2 linked regions of the Homo sapiens genome follow. The protein of the gene in region 1 interacts with the protein of each later gene in a biochemical or structural test. Each region holds a gene or a part of one and is shown on either strand. Other genes may lie near its edges.

What was found. Proteins that work in one complex are often made in the same cells at the same time.
Region 2: the proteins of LRP1 (region 1) and CLU form a complex in vitro, tested with the Homo sapiens proteins (one study listed by BioGRID).

The regions. Positions count from the first base shown.
Region 1 is NC_000012.12:57,173,437-57,180,531, reverse strand, and holds part of LRP1 (prolow-density lipoprotein receptor-related protein 1 preproprotein), read right to left. Parts: intron 6,753-7,095; coding exon 6,552-6,752; intron 5,073-6,551; coding exon 4,827-5,072; intron 4,624-4,826; coding exon 4,426-4,623; intron 3,492-4,425; coding exon 3,287-3,491; intron 3,106-3,286; coding exon 2,941-3,105; intron 2,174-2,940; coding exon 1,929-2,173; intron 1,643-1,928; coding exon 1,511-1,642; intron 1,204-1,510; coding exon 976-1,203; intron 751-975; coding exon 576-750; intron 486-575; coding exon 391-485; intron 203-390; coding exon 53-202; intron 1-52. UniProt on the Homo sapiens protein: Endocytic receptor involved in endocytosis and in phagocytosis of apoptotic cells. Required for early embryonic development. Involved in cellular lipid homeostasis.
Region 2 is NC_000008.11:27,611,630-27,619,341, forward strand, and holds the start of CLU (clusterin isoform 1 preproprotein), read right to left. Parts: upstream 3,072-7,712; 5' UTR 3,026-3,071; intron 123-3,025; exon of another isoform or gene 1-122.

The sequences.
Region 1 (7,095 bases):
GGTCTGGCCTGGCCTGCTCTGCGTCATCTCTGCTTCGCCCAGCAGCCCTCACCCATGATGGCCAGGGCGGTGGCCTTGCCCAGCTGGCTCCGCATGGCATCGATGACCTCCAGCCCACTCCCATCCAGGTTGCAGCGGTTGATGGTATGGTTCCCGGAGCTGATCCAGTAGAGTTTGCTTTCAGGGAAGTCAATAGCCAGGCCTGGAAAAGGGGGAGTCACTGCCGGGGAGTCTGGCCCAGGGCTGGGGATCCAGGGAAGGGAGCAGATGGTGAGAACAGGCACTAAGCTAGGGCTCTGGGGAGGCTGAGGGGCAACTGAAGGACCCTGCAAGCACCTGCTGGTCAAGGAATTAGGGAGGGGCTGTGGGGGTGGGCAGGGAAGCTCGTACCCACGGGGCCCTTCTGGCCACTGAAGAGCAGGGTGCGATTGCTGCCATCCATGTTGGCCATGCTGATGTTGTCACCATCGGTCCAGTAGAGCTTCCTGGGGGGAGGGTGCCAAGAGGGAAAGGTCAGGGTCCTCTTCTTCCCAGCCCCACACCCCATGCTCCCCGGCCCTGGGCCCTAGACTGACCCACGCAGAGGGTGGACGACAAGGCCATGGGGCTGCTCCAGGCCCTGCACCACTGCGTTCTTGAAGGAGCCATCCAGCCGGGCCACATTGATCTGCTTCTTATTGGTGTCATAGCTTGTCCAGAACAGGTTTCGGGAGACCCAGTCCACAGCCAGCCCGTGGGCATTTGGCAAGTCTGGGGGCACAAGTAGGGAGTCAGTTGTTGGGTGTCTGCAGGGCAGTGGGTCAGGAGGGGAGCCAGTGTGCCTTCTGGAGAAAAGGGATCAGGAAACCAGGCTGGAGCACTGAGGGGGAACAGGACTGGGAGAAGGACCACTCGGACCAAGTAGACCAGGGTTGGGAGCAAGGGGCGGGTGGAGGTGCCCATGTCCACTGGTGGGCATCCAGGGCCAGGAAGAACCTGCAGAGACGACTGTCTCCACGCCTGTGCCGTTGATGAAGGCCCGCTTGATGGCCTGTGTCCGCACGTCAGACCAGTACACACGCTGCTCGCGGGCATCGTAGTCTAGCACTGTGACGTTGTCGATGTCGGGCACCGTGAAGGAGATGATGTAGTTGTAGTAGGGAGCATCCAGGTCCACACCTCGGATCTCCATCTGACGTGCGTACAGCAGGAACTTCTTAAACTCTGTGGGGCATGGGCTGGTCACTGAAGGCAGTCCCTGCCTCTGTGCTTCCCACCAATCCGGTTTCAGGCCCTGCCTTCTTCTGGATCCGTCTGTTTGCTACTGGCCCTTGGCTCCGTGGACATACCCCGCTGGGTGCAGCCCCCCTGGCAGACCTGCAGCCCCTTCTCACAGTGGCTGTCTCTGGAGCCTCTCCTATCGGGACCCTCCCGACTGGGACTCTGCCTTAGCTGACAACCGGGATCCTGGGGCCTGCGGCCTTCCCTCCAGCCTCAGTTGCTCACTGGCTCTGGAGGGAGGGGCTCCTACCATAGCAGGTGGTGTTGTCCTTGTGGAGCTTCATGAGGTGGGGGCAGGCGCAGGACACGGTCCGGTTGTAGTTGATGAGACACAGGTGGGAGCAGGGGCCCTGGCCCCCATTGGCCTCACAGGGATTGGGAGCTGGGGGCAGGGTGGAGAAGAGAAGAAGCCAGAGCATCCTGTGACTTGCTGCTCCCTACATGGACCACCCCTTCCTCGCCCACTCTCCTCCCCCTGTTCCAGCAGCCGCTACTACTAGACCCTTCTCTGCTGCTAGACAGTGCCTCTGTCAACAGCCGGCCTACCCCTGCCATCCCAGCACAGACTTGCTCCTGTTCTCACTGCCCTCTCCTCTCCTAAGAGCTTCTACAGCTTCTAAAGAGGCTGCTGGCTCCCTTCCGGCTGCTCGAGGCCCCGAGCCCCTTACCCATGGGCTGGCGGGAGGGGTGGTACACCTGCAGGTCAAAGGGCTGGGTGTTGGTCCTCTGTACCACGGTGACATTGTGGCCGGTCCACTTGTTGGCCTTAGCCAGTGTGTTTGTTCGCCAGTCAGTCCAGTAGACCTCCCCCCCGTACAGCGTCACTGCAAACGGGTGCGACAGGAACTCGTGTCCCCGAAGCACCTCCATGTGGCCAGAGCCGTCGTAACGGGCTGAGTAAATGGCATCTGACCTAAGAGCATGATGGAGCAGAATGAGGATGCCAGCTGGGATCTCAGCCCTCAGAGCTCTGCCCAGGTGCCCACCCTCTGGGCCCTGGCCACAGCCCTCCCAGCGAAGAGCATGGGACCATTCCCTCCCCTAAGCCTTGCTGGCCAGAGCAGACAGACAGAAGGACCAAGGTGTGAGAACCCAACAGGTCCAGGTTTCACCTCTCAGGCCCCGATTCCCAAGCCCCAAGGGAATCTTTCGGTCACTTCTCCCCAGGGCTGCTGTCAGCACTCAGGGCTTTGATGAAAGTCAGAAAAAGGCACCCTCAGCGTGAACCCCGGGGGGCGGAGCCTGCAGTGAGCCGAGATCGCGCCACTGCACTCCAGCCTGGGCGACGGAGCGAGACTCTGTCTCAAAAAAAAAAAAAAAAAAAGAAAAGAAAAAGGCACCCTCCCTGGGCAGACCAATTAGAAAGAAGTTTCCCCTCCCTCTGGGCAGACACAGCCCCAGCAGAGGGAACAGAGTGGAGAGGACAGGTGAGTGGAGAGGATGGTACAGTGTGAATAACCACAGCTGATGGCCCTGCTTCCGCCTCCTCTACCTGCCCCCTCCCCTCGGCCCTGGCCTCCCCACGCCCCTCCGTCCTCCTCCTCCTGTGCCCAGTCCTTTGCCACCGTTCCTAGTTCTAGATCCCTTGGTCCTTCTCATCACCCTCATCACCACAGGTTCCTCCCCACCCCGTCCTGGTGCCACAGACTTGGGCCTTCTCAGGGCACAGAGGGTGCTGACCTGGCGTCAATCCAAAGGATGCGCTTCTCCAGGTAGTCCACGGTGAGCCCGTTGGGCCAGCCCCCAGAGCCGGTCTCCCGGTGCACGGTGCGGCGCCCAGCCCCACTCATGGAGGCTGCCTCAATGCGGGGCAGGCTGGCATCCCAGTCTGTCCAAAACAGGATCCTGGGGAGTGGGGAGGGGTCAGGAGGGCTAAAGTCAGGGCCCTCAGGGAGCGACTGTGGTGGGATCGTAGGTAGAGGGTGGGAGGAGGCAGATGGCACTGAGGAGTAAGGTGTCCCTGGCCAGGCTGAATGGGACTTCAGGGGGGCCATGGGGCCAGGAGAAGGCTGGGCAAGGTCCTCACCCATCCCGGGGATCCAGTGCGATTGCCCTTGGGTGCTCAATGTCACCGGCCAGCAGGGTGGTCCGGAGGGTCCCATCCAGCTTGGCCACCTCGATCTGATCCAGGTTACTCTCCACCCAGTAGATGTTGCCTGCAATCCAGTCTACAGCCAGGCCCTCGGGTGTGGCCAGGCCATACTGAATCACCACCTCGAAACTAGTCAGGGCTGGAGAAGAGAGGGCAGTGAAAGGTTAGCGTCTCCTGGGGAGCTGTGCATGAATGTGTGAAATCCTGGGAGCCCTCGATGACCCACCCTCAACCCTGGCACTTCTGCCAAAGTTTCTGATGTGCCCATATTCAAGAGTAGGACTCCTATTGTCTCCCCAACTTTTTTTTTTTTTTTGAGACAGGGTCTTCTGTCACCAAGGCTGGATGCAGTGGCATGATCATGGCTCACGGCAGCCTCAACTGCTTGAGCTCAAGTGACTGCCATAAAGATTTTTCCATGCTAATACATTATGTGTGTGCCTCATTGTTTTAGAGACTGTTGCACAGTGTGGATATCATCACAGTTTACTTAGCCTCCCCCCTCGTTGATGGACATTTGTAATGGTTTCAAATTCAAGTTTGTATTATTACAAACAATACAAACTTCTCTAGTAAAATGTGCCTCTTAGAAGCCTTTGCTCAGATGTCACCTTCTCAGGGGACCTTCCTTGACCACACAACTGAAAACAGCCTGTTTTGATCACTGCTGCATGCCCACTGCCCAGTGTGTACAGTGGGCACTCACTATTGTGTGTGACTGAAGGAAGTCTGGGGTGCACCACGCTGCCTGGGACAGAAAGCAGCGTTCAGGTACGCCACTCCTAAGTGGCTTTTTTCTTTCAAGCCTGCAATTCTAGATCTGGGGAGCAGAGCTCCAGGCCATTCAAAGGTAAGGCTGATCATTTTGTTAATTATCAGGCTGGCAGTTCTGCTGACGATAATTACGGGGCGTCAGGCATGGAGACCCACAGCAAAATCTAACCCAATGAACAGAAGTGTGGGGGATGGGGGAGCCAAGCCTCTGCTTTGGGGCCACTTGGATGGGACCTGTGGCCCCTAGCGCCTGAGCGCTCCGCCTGTGTGCATCCTGCCTGGCAGCAATCGGTGGTCACCTCCGTTGTCCAGCAGCTTCCCGCGGTAGATCTTGTCCTCCACCACGTCGGTCCAGTAGAGGGCGCTCTGGCTGAGGTGGAAGTCCAGGGCGATGGTGTTGCGCAGGCCGGGCACCAGGACGCTGTAGTCTCCTTTGTGAAGATCGATGCGCCGGATTTCATGGCGGTTGGAGAAAATGATGAACGGCTTGAAGGGGTCTGGGATGGGAGGGATGTGATGGGGTCAGCAAGGGGCTAGCTGCCTGTGTGCCACCCGTCCTGGCGCAGGCAGGTCTCTGCTGGTCCGGGCACTGGGGGCTAGGGTGGAAAACTCAGCCTTTGGCACCTGGCCACCAAGCCCAACCCACTGCAGCTCAGAGGCCTGCCTCGGCCTGCCCCACCACACCTCACTGTTGTCTCACCCAGGCTGCGGCAGCTCTCGCCGTCAGGTTCCAGGACCCAGCCCTCGTAGCAGGAGCACTTCACGCTGAACTTGTTCTGGTCGCACTTTTGGCTGCATTTGAGATGCTTGGCACAGTAGCTCTGGATCTGGCAGGTGTGGTTGTCGGGCCCCAGCTCCATGCCCAGAGGGCAGGAACACACAATGCCTTCGCCAGGTGCCACTGAGCAGTTGTGGCTGCAGCCACCGTTATTCAGAGAGCACTGGTCTAGGGGAGGGGCAGGCATGGAACAGACCCAGGGTCAGAAGCTGAGAGGAGGCAAGACCACGGCCCTGCTGGGCCCCAAGTCCTGGGCAGCCTGGACCAAGTCCTTGTGCCCTGCCCACGGCCCCATTCGTCTCCATTCCTGCTGAGCTTCAGGCTGAGCTTCAGCCCAGGACTTCCTGGGCTCCCTCAGGACCAGAGTTGGGACCCTTGCACCCACCAGCTGGCACCATACCTCCCCTTCCCACAGGGAGCACCCCTCAATATCTCTGTCTGGTCTCGATATGTTCCTGCCTTCTTGGGCCCAGGGCGGGGGCCCCAGCTTTTTGCCTCCCTGGGAGGGACCCTGGGAGGTCCTTAGGTCCAGTCCCCTTGTGCTGATCTCTCCTGATTTGGAGGGGTTTGGGGTGGGGTGCAGCAGGGCCTATACCACCCTTGGTCCTCTGGCACACCCTGGAAACTGCCAGCCTGACTGATAGCCTGTCGGCAGTTCTCCCAGCCAGTCCCTGTGGCCTTATCTTCCACTCCTCCCTTCCAAGGAACTGGGGGCTCTGCCTGGCTAAGAGGACCAGATAAGGCTGCTCTGCTCCTCATCCCCAAGTCACACCACATGGTCCTCCCTGACTCCTGGACTCCCCCAACCTCATCTCTTTTGGTCTTGAATGGGCACCCTCCTCCCCTTGCCTGTTTGTTTGTTTGGGATGGGGTCTTGCTCTGTCGCCCAGGCTGGAGTGCAGTGGCAGGATGTTGGCTCACTGCAACCTCCGCCTCCCAGGTTCAAGCGAGTCTCCTGCCTCTGCCTCCCAAGTAGCTGGGACTGCAGACATGTCCGGCTAATTTTTGTATTTTTAGCAGAGACAGGGTTTCACCATGTTGGCCAGGCTGATCTCAAATTCCTGAGCTCAAGTGATCTGCCCGCCTCAGCCTCCCAAAGTGCTGGAATGACAGGTGTGAGCCACCGCGCCTGCCCCCATGCCTTCTCACTCACTCTGCAAGTACTGCCTGTCCTTGGGAACCCCATGCAATCCCCACATCCTCCAGGAAGCCTGCCCTGACCATCAGCAGTCAACCCTGGTGCCTTTGTCTCCACAAGAGCACTCCGCATCTCTCTGTGGTATGCATGTGGGCAAGGGGTCTGAGTCTCCACAGCAGTTTAGGAGCTGTACTACCTTGGCCCAAGTCTGGGGGACCACTATGGAACCCCTCCATGCCTCAGTGCTCCCATCTGTCAAACGGAGAAAACAGAGCACCTGGCCCCCAGGGATGCCTTGTGGATAAACTGCTCTAATGGCGTGGCTCACTCAGCACAGCGCCATGGGGAGCGCCAGGTCCACACAGGCTGCTGGTGACCACTCTGGGTGCTGCTCGCCTGCCCGGCTGCCAGAGCTGCTCTCTCCTAGACTCAGGTCCCCCAAAGACTGTCCTTGGCCCAGACTCCTACCCAGCCACCCTCCCTACCCTTCTCCTGGGACCAGGCCTCACCGCAGAGCTCGCCCTCATCTGAGCCGTCGCCACAGTCGTCGTTGCCATCACACAGCTTGTCAGGGGGCAGGCAGACTGAGGTGTTGTTGGCACAAGGGTGCGAGGGTGGCCTGCAGGCCAGGGACTCGCAGTTCTCCTCGTCCGAGTTATCCTCACAGTCATTGTCGCCATCACACACCCACGCTTTGCTGATGCACCGAGCTGAGGGACAGGTGCACTATGAGGGCCCAGGCCCGGGGACTGGGGCTCCCCCTGCCCTTCCTTCCAGACCCTGTGGGCTTCTCTAATAGGGTCAGGATTGCAACGCTGTGGGGTCCACGAGGAACCCCGAGGCTTTTTGGGTCAAATTCACATAGGCAACAAACAAGGCAGGAATCTGCAGCAGGAGGTGCTGAAGCTCAACTCTGGTAGGGTTTTGGCTTCTCAGGTCCTCTGTGCAGGCTCTGGCCCTTCATGCCTTCCCCCACCCATGACACACAAGCTTCCTCTGGACTGCCTTTTGCCTTGCACTGTCCCCAGCACCACTCCACACAGCACAGTGCCA
Region 2 (7,712 bases), on another chromosome or scaffold:
ATGGGGTTCCCCTTCCTGAAATGGTTCACATCCAAAGCCCGCTCAGCCCAGCAGGCCCATCTGGACACTCAGTAGCACATTAACAAGGAGTGCCTCTCATGAGAAGTAATCAGGCGCAAAGAGCCAGGGAGCAGCGTGGGAGAAGAGATGGGGTCAGCGCCTTCCCCAGAGATGGGGTAGGGGGCGGAGACCGGGCTCACCAGGAAGGCTGTGGTCTCACGGGCTCTGCCCCAGCTGCCCACTGAGCCCTGAAATGCCTCCAGCAGGAACAGAGCCTTTGTCATGCCAGAGAGACAAAGCCAGCCAGAAACACCTCTCTGCCAGGGGCCCCTGAAAGCAACAACTTCTGGAAAAACCCATTCAGAACTAGGTTCTGACCAGAAGACAGGGTGCTGGGCCATGAAGAATGGGGCAGCCAAAGGCAAGATACAGGAAAGGAATTCCAGACTCAGCAGCGGGCACAGAGTCTGCTCCAGGGAGCCTGGGGTCCCTGGTGAACCATCCAGCTCAGACCTGGGAAGGAGGTCGTTCTCTCACCCAACCTCTCTACCCTAGCGGTGAGGCTGAAGCCCAGAGAGGGCATGGGACTCCCTAGAGTCCACAGCATGCTCATGGTAACCCTGGGATGAGAGCCCAGCCCTCCCGACCCCTAGTCCAGTATTCTTTCCTTGATTCCAAGTCACTTAAATATCTGAGCCTCAGTTTCTTCATCTGTAAAATGGATCTAATCCAGACCTCAGAGAGGGGAATGTGTTCTGTAAACACGAGGGTCTTATGTAATCATAGTAAATTCTGACTACTTCCAAATTAGACTGAGGTCTGAGGCTGGGCATTGGCAGTGTCTAATCAACATGTCTGGAGAGGGGCAGGAAAACCGAGACAAGCACACAGAGGCCACCTGTGGTCCCCCGGACTGTGTGGCTCTGCTTTGCTGAAATGATTGACCACTTTTTAAAGTACTTATGAATCACTGCAGGGCTGGTTATAATGTTGGTTCTGAGACTGCTTTTCCAGCCAGTCTGCAGGTGATATGGATGCTGCTGATCCAAGGAATGTTCTAGAACCGTGACTGCACAGCCGACCTCCTTTCCTTTGCTCGGACTCACCTCCCCCCTCATCTCCTCTGCCTCCTGGGAGCCTGGCTGCCAGCTGCCCTGGGTGGAAGAGCCATGCCAAGGCCAAGGCCCTCGAGTCCCCAGCACTACCACACAGCCTCATTCTCCCTAAGAAGGCTTAAACCACTTGGCCTTGCTCCTTCTACCAGAAAAGGCCGGTTCTGTGGACAAAGGGGCTGCTCAGGGGAAGAGGAGGAGGAGAAGATGGCGGGGGGTGGGGGGCAGGGGGGGCGGGGGGAGCAGGCAGACTTTGGGAGCAACTCCCCTCCAGGCACACCCTCCTGGGAACTTTGAACTGAGCAGCTTCCCAAAACGTTTCCAAGCAGGGCAGGGCTGGAGGCTTAAGAAAATCAATGACCTGGCAGGGCGCATTGATTCACACCTGTCACCCCAGCACTTTGGGAGGCCAAGACAGGCGGATTACTTGAGATCAGGAGTTCGAGACCAGCCTGGCCAAGGTGGTGAAACCATGTCTCTACTAAAAATACAAAAATTAGCCGGATGTAGCAGCATGCGCCTGTAGTCCCAGCTACTCAGAGGCTGAGGCATGAGAACTGCTTGAACCCGGATGGCGGAGGTTGCAGTGAGCCGAGATGGCGCTACTCTACTCCAGCCTGGGCAACAGAGTGAGACTTGGTCTCAGGAAAAAAAAAAAAAAAGAGAGAAAAGAAAGAAAGAAAATCAATGACTGTGAACAGGGAGCCGTGGGGAGGATGGGAAGACAGTGAAGAGGGCACACAGATGGTGAGGGTTTCAATCCCAAAGCCCCGGCTCCTATCTGCTTCTTCAAATGGAGAAAACTAAACCAAAAGGAAAATAAGAAAAATAATCACCGGTAATTCATATCACCCAGAGGCAAAGGTTAGCACTGTGGTATATTTCCTTCTGTCTTCCATGCAGTTTATACAAGATTCTTCACATTCACCATCTTCAAATATTCTTTAAGGGCATACTTTTATGGCTATGTAATACTCCACTTACTCACGGACCTAAGTTTATTTTACCATTCTCACAAGATTGGCCATTTCAGTTGTGCCCAATGCTCCACTATTATTATAACTTAACATTTTCATGGGCATCTTTTTTTATATAGTATCTGTACTTTCCTTTAAATTCCTAACCTCTCCGTTTAAAAAATAATAATAAAAATCATATTTTTTTTAACTAGGTCCAGAAATTCTGGAAGGTCAAGAGGCTTTGGCTCGAATCCCAATTCTGATACTTATTTGCTGTTTAGTGTTGGCACCAGTCCTAAACCTCTCCAGGCCTCAGATTATCATCTGTAAAATGAGACTGTGGAATCAGAGGTCTGAGGCCTGGTGGATCTTGTGTGACTTTTCTCTGATGCACCTCAGATGCATTAGGAGGCAGAAAAAGTCGGATTTCGGTGGTTGCAGCATATACTGAAATCCGCAGCCTCATACTTACAGGCAACAGTGTCCAGAGAGCTAGAGAATTTAGAAGAAAACTAGATGACTCATGCATGCAAGCCGAAAGCCACAACTGAGAGATCCGCATCTTCGCAGAGGATATGCTGCAGGAAGGAGCTCGGTGCAGGCCAGCTCTGTCACCTGCTAGCCTGGGTCTCCCGCAACGCGGCAGGTCTCCAGGTCTCAGTTTCCCCATCTTTGCGAAAGGATGATCATTATATCTGTTCTATTTACCCCCCCACCACAGAATTGTGGTTGGAGCTCGTGCTCTCAGGCGGCGGTTGCGCCGGGGCCCCTGGCTCAGCTGCCTGGTGATGGGGCTCCGGCCACCTCCCCTCCCTGGCTTCCTGGGCTCCGTCGAAAGCGCAGGGGTTGTGACTGCGAGCTGTGTCATCCCTCTCTGCCTGGCTGCCATCCCCTGCCCGCCCATCCGTCCTGGTGTGGCTCTGCTCAAGGGTAGGGAAGACGGGGACATCTCACCGGTCAGCGGCACCCTGTGCCCGCGCGCTCCTCCTGGCGACGCCGCGTTGTGGGCACTGGGAGGCGCCGTATTTATAGCGCTCTGCTCGCGCACACACCCCCTTTGGGGCTGGCTGCAAACCTGCATGACTCACGCCCAAAGAATGCCGCGGAAAGCAAGGGGAGCTTTCTGGAAGCCGGGAGGTGGGGGCCGGTGCAGCACCGGGCTGGGGGCGCCGGGGGGCGCATCATCACCACGAATAGCTGTGCTGGCTCCAGGAGAGACCCTGAGGTGCGGCCGCTCGGCGCTTCCAGTAGGGAAGAGCCTGAACTCGCGTGCCCATCTGGGAGCCCCTCTCACGCGGTTAGCCCGGCTGTCTGTCCCAGTCCAAGACACAATCTCACAGTTCCCTGGCCCTACTGACCTTAACCTTCACATTACACAAGCGCCACTTCTCTTGACCCATTTAAATAGTAAAGAGTCAGACATAATGAGGGTGGGATGGAGAGGGGCCTTGTGCTGGAGAAGAGAGCACAGGAAGTATTGAAACGCCTACTCCTGGAAACATCACACTGATGGGGGTCCCTGGACTGACCCGCCAGGCCTGGAGGAAACAGAATTGTGTTTAGGAGTGATCAGAGCAGATATGTGGAGAGCCAGAAGGCCTCTCCGGGGTCCTTGATCCACAGAGCTTAAGCAATCACTGTCCCCATCTTTTTGGAACCCAACCAAGCAGGGTGGGCTTCATGGCTGTGGGACCCTTGCAGATCCACGTTTGGTTTAATGGGCTACTGTGACGGTCTTGAAATTCTTCATAGTTTTTGAACCAGTGGACCTGAATTTTTATTTTGCCCTGAGCCTTCCCAGTTAGGAAATCAGATCTGTGTCCAGAGGGGTTTGCTGGTCTCCAACTGCTGGAGTTCCTTCTGCTGAGAGCAGGGAGAATCTCCTGTCGCAGCCACCCCTCCCCCTGGCAAGGAGGGGCAAATCTAGGAACCCTGGAGGTGCAGCTACTTCTTGGGGAAGAAAGTGAGCTGCCCATTTTGGAGCCAGGGATGTTTAAGCCCCAGGAGAGAAGTCAAGGGGCTGACAGCTGGGGCAATGGGTGGACAGGGCGGGTACAGGCAGCCCCACTGTGGGTGGCAGACTTTGAAAACCATGTGAAACAAAGGGGCTTAAAGGAGAGCTGCGTGGTCAGGGGCTGAGTTTTCCAGTTCAGGATCAGGACTATGGAGGCACAACATGGAGGCCCAGTCCCTTGCTTGCCCAACGTCCAGGGGCCACTAGGACCCCAGTCCTTTTCAGGAGGCAGCCTCGGGGAATCTTCAAGGCCCATGACTAAGTGGGAGAACCCAGACCAGGTCCATGAAAGTCTGATTACAGTCCTAGGTGTGCCCCTAGACACTGGGTGACCTCGGACTAATCACTTTGCCCTTGGGCCTCAGTTTCTTCCATCTGGACGATGAGGAATCGGGAATGGATCATCTCCACGGCTCCCTGCAACCTAACCTAGAGCCAAGCCAAGTATTAGAAGGCCATTAACCCAGAAGAAGAAAAAAATGTCCCAGAAGAGGCTACACTTTATTTTTCTTAAAAAAAAAATGTCTAATTATCAGTAACAGCTACATTTTCTGTGGACAGTGCCTGCTCCTTATCAGTGCCTGCTCCTTATCAATACCTGAGGTTAGAAGAATTGTTTTTGAGCTCGCTCCTTGTAACTTTTCTGTTCTGTAGCTCCCTCAGCATCCGGAACAGAAGGCATAAATCTAGTTATATTTTTAAAAATTAGACTTTGGAGGTCAGTCAGTGAGATCCGCCTTAGCCAGCTGAATTAGGGGAAGGGAAGAGAGGAAGAAAGGACTTGGGAGAAAATAGCATGATTCACAGATTCACAGTCATGACTGTGATCCCTTGGGAATAATTACTTGATTATTCCCACTACTAAGCAAACAAGGTTCAGAAGGTCAAACTTTGAGGAAAGAAAAGTGTAAATTTTGAAAGCGCCATAAATGCATCACCAGATGTTTCATATTCTAAGCAGATCATAGACATTGATTGGTTCAGGACTCACACACTGCTTGATTCCTACCCCATCCCCAGCATCTGCACCCGGTGGTCATCCTGCCCATGTTTGAATGCCACCAATAACAGGGAGCTCACTACCTGCCATGCAACCATTTGTCTAGTAAAGCTGTTGATAAAGTTAGGGCCTTCTTTGGTTGAGTCACAGTCTGGCTCGTGTATGGGCCAATCCGGAGCCCAGTTCTGCCCTCTGGAGCCACACAGAGAAAATCCAGCCTATCTCTCCCATAGTGCCCCTTCTGATATTTGAAGGCAACGTAGTCTGCTTTTCCCAGTGACCTCCAGGCTTGCAGCTCCTTGCCTTGCCGTGGTTTGCAGACTTTTCCCCAGCCCTTTGACATTCTGGACCTCATCTCTCTTGAAACCCTTGGCCCAGCCCTGGACTAGCCAATGCCAGTGGGGAGCCTTGGACCAGCCAATGCCGGAGGGCCTGAGCACACAAAGCAGAACAGGACCACCCCTTCCCTTGCCCTAAACACTCCAAATAAGCTTTATCAGATGCTGAGTCACTGGGCTGATTCATAGAGAATGCATCATCTTCTTGGCAGGTGCTGCTGTTTGATCCTCTGTCTCCCATTATGGACTTACACAGCTGGGTTTGGGGCATTAGCTTGATTTATTTTCTTGGAGAGTCAGAGCCATGGGGAGGGCCAGGGAGGGATGAGTAAAGACCCTTGCATTTATCTGTTTATCTATGCTTTGTGCACCATCTCTGGCTGCCTGAATGTCTCTGGGGCTGCTTCGCTACGCAGTGTCCTTATTACACATCCCCAACCAGCCTTTGTCTGGCTCAGCACCACAAGCAGGACAGCTCAGCCAGCAGTCTGATACAGCTGGAACAAACTAGGAATGGGCAAGAGCAGTATCCTGTGGCCTGTGATTAAGAATCACTCTCAGATGGGCGTGGTGACTCACACCTGTAATCCTAGCACTTTGGGAGGCTGAGGTGGGAGGATCACTTGAGTCCAGGAGTTCAAGACCAGCCAGGGCAACATAGCAAGACCCAGTTTCTACAAAAATTAAAAAATTAGCCAAGCATGGTAGTGCATGCCCGCAATCTCAGCTACTCAGGAAGCTGAGATGGAGTATCGCTTGAGCCCAGGAGGTCAAGGCTGCAGTGAGCTACGATCGCACCACTGCACTCCAGCCTGGGCAATAAAGTGAGACCCTGTCTCTCAAAAATAAAAATGAAAAAAATAAGAGAATCACTCTCCAAGGGGAGCAGGGAGGGAGGATGGTGAGAGATTGGTCAACCAGTACACAGTTAAAGTCAGATGGGAGGGATAAGTTCTGGTATTCTATCGCATAGTAGAGTTTAACTTTTTTTTTAGGTCCCAGTATCTATTGCTCCCCTCTATGTGTCCATGTGTTCTCATCATTCAGCTCCCACTTATAAGTGAAAACATGCAGAATTTTGTTTTCTGTTCCTGTGTTACTTCACTTAGAATAATAGCCTCCAGCTCCATCCATGTTCCTGCAAAAGACATGATCTCGTTCTTTTTTATGGCTGCATAGTATTCCATGGTGTATACCGTAGTATTCCATGGTGTATATATACCATATTTTCCTTATCCAGTCTGCCACTGATGGGCATTTAGGTTGATTCCATGCCTCTGCTATTGAGAATAGTGCTGCAATGAACATATGAGTGCATGTGTCGTTATGGCAGAGCAATTTATATTCCTATATATACCCAGTAATGAGATTGCTGGGTGAAATGTTAATTCTGTTTTTAGCTCTTTCAGGAATCATCACACTGCTTTCCAAAATGGTTGAACTAATTTACACTCCCACCAACAGTGTATATAAGCCTTCCCTTTTATCCACAACCTCACCAGCACCTCTTATTTTTTGAATAATGTATATTTCAACATAGGTAGAAGAGAGAACTTACAATGTTCTCACCACAAAGAAATGTTTGAGATGGATTTGGTAATTACCCTAATTTGATCCTTACACAATGTGTGCACGTATCAAAACATCACATTGTACCCCACAAATATGTACCATTCTCGTGTCAGTTTTAATTTTTTTTAACTTAGTGAAAGGCTGGGTGCAGTGGCTCACGCCTATAATCCCAACACTTCAGGAGGCCGAGGTGGGGAGATCACTAGGTCAAGAGACCATCCTGGCCAACATGGTGAAACCCTGTCTCTACTAAAAATACAAAAATTAGCTGGGCATGGTGGCACGCGCCTGCAGTCCCAGCTACTCGGGAGGCTGAGGCAGGAGAATTGCTTGAACCCGGGAGCTGGAGGTTACAGTGAGCTGAGATCGCACCACTGCACTCCAGCCTGGCAACAGAGTGAGACTCCATCCAAAAACAAACAAACAAACAAACAAAAGGATGGATTTGCTAATTACCCTAATTCGATCATTACACAAACGATCTTAGTAAAAAGATCACAAATGATTCTTAGTAAAAAAGAATCACTTTCCAAGCTGTAATTATTTAATGGGTATATACATTTATTTAATCAATTACAGGCCCATGATCAAATGGTGGCTAATAAAATCATATCCAGTGAAATCAGCCCATAGATGATACAGAGGTATTCTGAGTGATTTTCTCCGGACCTCCGTAAAGTCCAGAAACATTCACTCCATCAGTGGGTGTGTCTCATC